Homo sapiens: one gene and its partner. The protein of the gene in region 2 interacts with the protein of the main gene of each other region in a biochemical or structural test. Each region holds a gene or a part of one and is shown on either strand. Other genes may lie near its edges.

The links. Proteins that work in one complex are often made in the same cells at the same time.
Region 1: of the proteins of CUL2 (region 2) and DCUN1D5, one has a biochemical effect on the other in vitro, tested with the Homo sapiens proteins (2 studies listed by BioGRID, with this or other methods).

What each region holds. Positions count from the first base shown.
Region 1 is NC_000011.10:103,050,552-103,054,306, forward strand, and holds the end of DCUN1D5 (DCN1-like protein 5), read right to left. Parts: 3' UTR 135-3,755; downstream 1-134. UniProt on the Homo sapiens protein: Contributes to the neddylation of all cullins by transferring NEDD8 from N-terminally acetylated NEDD8-conjugating E2s enzyme to different cullin C-terminal domain-RBX complexes which is necessary for the activation of cullin-RING E3 ubiquitin ligases (CRLs).
Region 2 is NC_000010.11:35,013,707-35,017,461, forward strand, and holds part of CUL2 (cullin-2), read right to left. Parts: intron 2,689-3,755; coding exon 2,486-2,688; intron 95-2,485; coding exon 1-94.

The sequences.
Region 1 (3,755 bases), on a different chromosome or scaffold from region 2:
GTTTTAATATGCATTTCTTGTCTTGGCTTACATTTGTTTAATTCCTTTAATAGTAGGTCAACATTATAAACAGGGTTGTACTAGAATGTGTGCCATACAGTGAATTAGAAAAATACACAAAAGATTACTGGACATCTTATACAAGTGAAATCATTTATTTATCTATTCATTTTCATTTATTCCATTTATTGAGTGCTTTTCTATACTGTGGATAGTTCTGAGTACTGGTGAAATAAAAGCAAAAACACACAGTCCCTGCTCTCAAGGAGCTCACAGTTAAGAAAACAGATATGTAAGTATGCTACTGTAATATGGTGTTATCAGCACTCTAATAAAAGTATATACAAGGTTAGTAGTGTCTCCATGATGGGTAAGGAAAGGGTGTTTCTTTAAAAATAATCAGACCCAGAATAAGGGGGGAAACCCTCCATGTCTACAGGATGCAGTAGAGATCTTGGGCATTCCAGAGACAAAGAAAGGTGCTGCAACTTCTGGACATAAAGAAGTTCCAATAAATCCAATCTTACATCATAAAGACTAAGCTTACCATCACCAATTCATACATTGGAAGTTCAAGAACCAGATTTCCCTTATTCAGTTGGTGGTCTGTCATCTTTTTTCCAATTATTTTGTAACATTGGACTAGTCAACATACCATCTTATGACCAAATTTAAAACAAATTACTGGTTAAGGAAAAAAATGACTCATTAGTAAGTAAAGTGACAAGCAGAACAAATGAACCATCCATCCTTCAGGAAACTTTTTTAAAAAAAGATTTTCTGCATGGTTTATCTTGTGGTTTGCTTCTTCTGACAAGGCAGCAACCTTAGAAATGATATCAGCATGAAAAGTTCATGACTTATTCACCTGTGACATAACTTTGGAGTCTCATGGGAGTTCCAAAGTTTTTCTCCTGATCATGAGATTTGGTGGCTTCACATATTTACTTCCCCCCCCCCCCCGCCACCCCTGTGTTAACAGGTTTACTGGCAGATGCAGGAGGTGACATTCCAGTGGCTCCATTATTTTCATTAGTCAATATCATTTATTCTTTGTCATTAAACAAATATTTGGAACCCACTACATTCAAAGCATAGCATTAGGTTTTACTTAGCATTTTACAAACACTTTTAAGTACAATATCAATATGCACATCAATCTTACCTCTACCTCACAGAAGAGGAAAAAGGGAGCTCAAGTTATCTTCTCAAGGTCACATAGTCACTAAGAAGCAAAGGACTCTGAACACAGATCTCTGAACTCCAAACCCAGGGCTCTTTCCAGCCTTCCTTACTAGTCTCCCTGTCCTCAGATTTTCCTGCTGCCTAATTAATGTTCTTAAAACACCAAAGTAGCCCCAGCCTTCATCGCGTCTCATCTGCTCTGAAAATCCACTTTGACTATTTCAGTCCACAGAACTCACTCTCCTCTGAACTCCTATAGCTTATTGTCATATTATTCAACTGGCACTAACTCAGAAAATGCTTAGTGAGATCTGTCTTTAATTATGAAATAATTTTAGTGTCTATTTAGAAGACACTGTGCCCGGTTATGTGAGACTGCTCCAGTACTACTTAAACGTAAGTTTTATTCAGTTCTGCAAATGCTTTTGACAACCTACCATGAGTCAGGCACCATGCTGAGAGCTGAAGACATGGTTTCTGCCCTCAAGAATCTCAGTCTAATGGGAATGTGGATATGTAAACGTTTTACAGACATATGTGTACAATTGGTCATTCATTCATTAATTCAGTAAGCAAACTCAATTTGCAGGCCATGAGAGATAAGTAAAATACGGTCCATTTCTTTTAAGTAACTTGCAGTCTAGGATCAAAGAGAGACGTGAATTTTTTCATTCATTAAATACCTATTATGTGGTGGAAACAAGTGAGGAACACCTATGAATAACATGGTCTCTGTTCACAGAGCTGTTTCCTTTTTAAGGATCATAATCTTCAAAGGTAGAAACTAACAACTACACTGTTTTATCCTGTGTAATAAGAGGGCATAGCAAAGCCTGGGCCTATGGATATTTATTGGATATTGATTCATTCCTTCATTCTTGTATCTACTCCAAGTCTCTCTTGGTAGTTCTTACATATCATCCTTTTTTAGACCAGCTCTAGATAATGAATCTAAGATAGAATTATCATAAACCTTATAGTTCTAGTGTAAGTATTTCCAAAGATACTTGGAATATTTTTCATGTTATTCCAAACACCAACCACTTCTTGGCTTTTTATAGAGAGAATAAAATAGAAATTCCTAAATAGAAATTCAGTTTTCTCACTCTATTACTTTGTTCACATGTTTGATGTCAAGGTGCAAATGTGCAAGTAGTGGTTTTTAAAACCTGCTATTCAGAGAGCAAGGAGTTCCTTTGAGGTTTTTCAGAAATAATACTAGCAGCGAGGAAGACAGGGAGCTTCCCACTTAACCAGAGTATTTTAGCTTTCTGTTTTAAATACTGTGCTTCTAGGTAAAACTTATTTTGCAATAGGGTCCTGCTACTTAATTAAAAAAAAACTGATTTAAGAGACTCAATGTAATAAGACATCATAGAATTTTGGCTTTTTATTTTTTAATATTTCTCTTTTTTAAAAATAGAGTCCTTCCTATGAAGTCAAACCAATCCACTTTTAAAGACAGCCATAGTAGCTATGTTACTGAGCATTTATTACTTGGTGCCAACTACACTGTAAATTGATCATTTAGTCATATTTAGCATCCATTTAATGAACCATTTCACTATACTGCCTACAAAGAAAGCAAGTAATACAAATCAGTGTGCATCATTGACATTACAGATTAATTTCCTAAGAGATTTGCATTTCTAAATATGTCTATGTAGACAGAAGAAATAAGACCTGGTGTTCGATATATCAGTAGGATGACTGATCTATTAACACTAAACTATTGTACATTTCAAAATAGCTAAAGAGAATTCGAATGTTCCTAGTGTAAAGAAAACATAAATATTTAAGGTGATGGATATCCCAATTATCTTCATTTAATTATATGAATATATCATACTATCACATGTACCCCCCAAATAAATACATTATGTATCAATGAATTTTAATTATATGAATATATCATACTATCACATGTACCCCCAAATAAATACATCATGTATCAATGAATTTTAATTATATGAATATATCATATTATCACATGTACCCCCCAAATAAATACATCTATTATGTATCAATGAAAAAAATGTATCTGAGTGGTTCAATTTTTCCATTTGACTCTACTATATATAACACTTATTGAACACAAGTCCATCCTATGAGGTTCAATTGATGTTTTTCCAGATAGCAAAGAGTAACTAATATTTACTGCCTGTATTTCATTTCATCCTCAAAATAATGCTATTAGATAAGGACTATTATTATCCTCATGTTACAGACAAGGAAATGAAAGAACTAGCACACAGAAATAGGTACCCTAAAAGGACTAGGGGTGCAAGAGGACCATGTATGGGAAAACTTTCCAGGTGAAAAGCAGGAAAAAGAACCTCATTCCAGAAGGTTCCATTTCATGTCAAACTTCTCAAACTGACGTAAGCCAGATAGAGAGAACCTCCCAATTTCCACATCTATGTCTCCTGTTTACTCCAATGACTAAAAAAGGCTTGACCTCCCACTCTCTATGGCTGCCAATAACTGCTCTTGAGGAATGGGGTTAAAGTCTGCTTGAAGAAGTAGTGGGAGCAAAGATAGAAGGTTAGAATTGTCTCCATAATCTTTAG
Region 2 (3,755 bases):
TGTCTTTCTGCATTGATGTAGTAATTTTAAATTTTGTTCTTTTACTGCTAAAGTTCATATTTAATGAAAACGAAGATTCTGCATCAATATCTTCCTACATTTAAAAATAAAACATTTATATTTATAAAAACCAAAATCTTTAAATAAGAGTTTGCTGCAAGCAATTCTGCTAAATTAATGACCAAGCAAAAAAGCCTCCACTCTCATAACTTTTATATTATAGATTACCAAATTTAAGAGAAAAATAATTCTTTTGTTCAAACAAACAGGAAAAAACCCAATTATTTTCTACTTTTACATCTGCCAGAATCTTAAGCAGTTTATGTTTGGGAATAAGCTATTTTCTGGTCCTACTATTCTATATACACTACTTTTTGATAAAATAAGAGTCAAGCTCATTGCCTAGAGTTTGACATTTTAATTTTTATGAAACACCAAAGTGCGTAACTTTTCCATCACCCCATTTTGAAAAAGCAACCACATTTTTTTTTACAAATGCCGCAGTAACAAAATACCCACTGTAAATGGCCTGATGACAAGAGAAAGCTGTGCCTCCAGTAGCACACAGCATCAATTTGCTGTGACCTGGGGTGATGGTGAAAACATTTATTTCAATCCATGTTTTATTCACTCTTCAAGAAGCAAGTGGCCTTTGCTCAGGGGAAAACTGTTTAGGCAATTTTTAGAATAACAACTTCTGTATCAGGCTTAAGAAAGCCACTGATATCATAGAGTGGAATTTCTCTGGCAGCAGAATCAAAAGGCACTTGGAAGATGAAATAATTCTCAATAATAATCTAAGACATTCTGCTAAGGAATGGACAGATTCATAATTAAATTTAAAGGCCAGGCATGGTGGCTCACGTCTGTAATCCCACCACTTTGGGAGGCTGAGGTGGGCAGATTACTTGAGCTCAGGAGTTTGAGACCAGCCTGGCCAACAAAGCAAAACCCGGTCTCTACTAAAAATTAAAAAATTAGCCTGGCATAGTGGCTTACACCTGTGGTCCCAGCTACTTGGAAGGCTGAGGCAGGATTATCACTTGAGCCCAGGAGGTGGGGATTGCAGTGAGCTGAGATGGCACCACTGCACTCCAACCTGGGTGGCACAGCAAGATCTCATCTCAAAAATAAATAAACATAAAATAAAATTTAAAGTGCAAACAAGGAATCTATGTTTACTTTGTCAATTTCTGGGCAGCAAAAATAGCATGTTTTAGAAAAAAATATAAAACCTTTAAGAATTTACTAGCCTAAAATTAGAAACCATAATTAATTAACCTTAAGAAATCCCTATTTTGGCCAGGCACAGTGGCTCACGCCTGTAATCCCAGAACTTTGGGAAAGACAGGTGGATCACCTGAGGTCAGGAGTTCGAGACCAGCCTGACCAGCCTGGCCAACATTGTGAAACCCTATCTCTACTAAAAATACAAAATTAGCTGGGCATGGTGGCACGTGCCTGTAGTCCCAGCTACTCAGGAGGCTGAGACAGGAGAATCATTTGAACCCAGGAGGTGGAGGTTGCAGTGAGCCAAGATCACGCCATTGCACTCCACCCTGGGCAACAAGAGTGGAACTCCGTCTCAAAAAAAAAAAAAAAAAATCCATATTTTGCTAAGATTCTGATGCCAGATAAATCATTTCTCAAAATTATGAAAACATTGATTTGAATTTCAGAATATGCCTTTTACAGTTGTTCAGTTATAGACTATAAAATGTCATCATAATCCTAGGGATGTCAGCAAAATGAATTAATGAGAGAAATAAACTGTAGGCTATTAACTTTACAAAAATAAAAACAAAACATTATTTATAGGAATTTTTTCTTATAAGCACAATAATTTGAAGGAGATATAATCCCACCTCTGTTGCATTTTTAACTATTTAAACATCTAGGATATACTATGACAACAAAACAGCAAAATCTTGTAACTAGAAAAAAAGTTACAGAGAAAAAAAGTAATATACTAATGGCTTGTTATTCTTGTGACAGATATTAAAAATATATGGTGGTTAAAAACAGATGACAGTTAATTGAGTGCTGACATTAAGAACACTTGGAATGGAGTTACACATATTAAATATGTGTACAAACAGACATCAACAGGCTGTCATTTCCTGTTATAGAACCATGAAATTAAGCACATTTATAAAACCAAAAACCTGGAAAGTCTTTAAAGGCTAGTTTCAAAATCTCAATTAATCAAAATCTTCCAGATGGCAATTCTTTTACAATTATTCAATAAGCTGTAACAGTATAGGACAAATAAAATCAAACTATAAACGGCACATGGCACCAACTCACACAGCATGCTCTGTGATGCCTTAACGCTCGCAGCTCTATGGAGCGTACAGTAACGTAGTGAATACAAGTGCTTTCCAGAGCACAATAACAATTACAGCCTTATTTTAAAACTGCAAACATCTCATGAAAAAGCTTTAATGCTGATGATGCTTAAATTCTTTGGAATATTACTACATACCTTTTCTGAATCATGGTTAATCATTTTCACATCAAGTAATGATTTGATTGTTTTTGTCAGTTCCTTTTCATTCATCTGAGTGCTGTCCTGAAGCTCTTTATAACTGACAGTTTCACTGTTGTTAAAGGCAAGAAGAACTGCCATTTGGTATGTTGTAACCATGGCTACATATGGTTTGCCCAAATAGTTCATTTTAACTTCACCTACAATTAAAACAAAAACTGACAGTGAATTGACCATTCAAAGAAACATTTCAAATTTACTTTATTTCAGACATTTTCTTCGGAAAGAGTGAACCAATAATTTTATTAAATTGTTGTAAAGCCACTGCTGTTAACAAGGTAGTCATTTTGTTTCTTGGGGAGGTGAGGATGGAAGTCTATTAGTTTTGAGTATATGGTATAAATCAGTAAAACTATCATAACTTCACCAGTAGGTTAAAACAGTCTTTAAGGCCAGGCGCAGCGGCTCACGCCTGTAATCCCAGCACTGTGGGAGGCCGAGGCAGACAGATCACTTTAGGTCAGGAGCTCGAGACCAGCCTGGTCAACATAGTAAAACCCCATCTTTACTAAAAGTACAAAAATTAGCCAGGCATGGTGGCTCATGCTTGTAATCCTAGCCACTTGGGAGGCTGAGGCAGGAAAATCACTTGAACCTGGGAGGCGGAGGTTGCAGCAAGCCAAGATCACACCACTGCACTCCAGCACGGGTGACAGAGCGAGACTCTGTCTCAAAAAAAAAAAAAAAACAAAAAAAAAAGTCTTTAAATATTAATAGAAATGCTAAGACTTAGGCAGAAAAAGAAAAGAACAAAAAACCCAAACAATAAAAGGAGGTGGGAGAAGGAGAAATGGACAGACAAAGGGCAAAGTGATATCAGCAACAGCCTCAAGTGCTGTCGATAGCTGGGCTCTCCCAGGTAAGGTTCAAGCCTCCTGGGAGGTCCACAGCCACATGGAAAATGCTTTTGAGGCCCTGTCTAAGCTGTAATTTCTGCCAAAATTAATGCTATTATGTCTCATAAACAACATTTTTCTTTCCAGTAACTTCCTAGAGGCAAACAGGTATGAAAGGAGAGACAAACAGGCAGACCCATTCTCTTGCTGAAAGTTGATAGCAAAAGAATCTGAATGTTTTCATAAAAATGTTTAATCTGAATGTTTTCATAAAAATGAAAAACATTTAATCTGAATGTTTTCATAAATATGTTCTATATGTGCTGGGCACGGTAGCTTATGCCTGTAATCCCAGCACTTTGAAAGGCCGA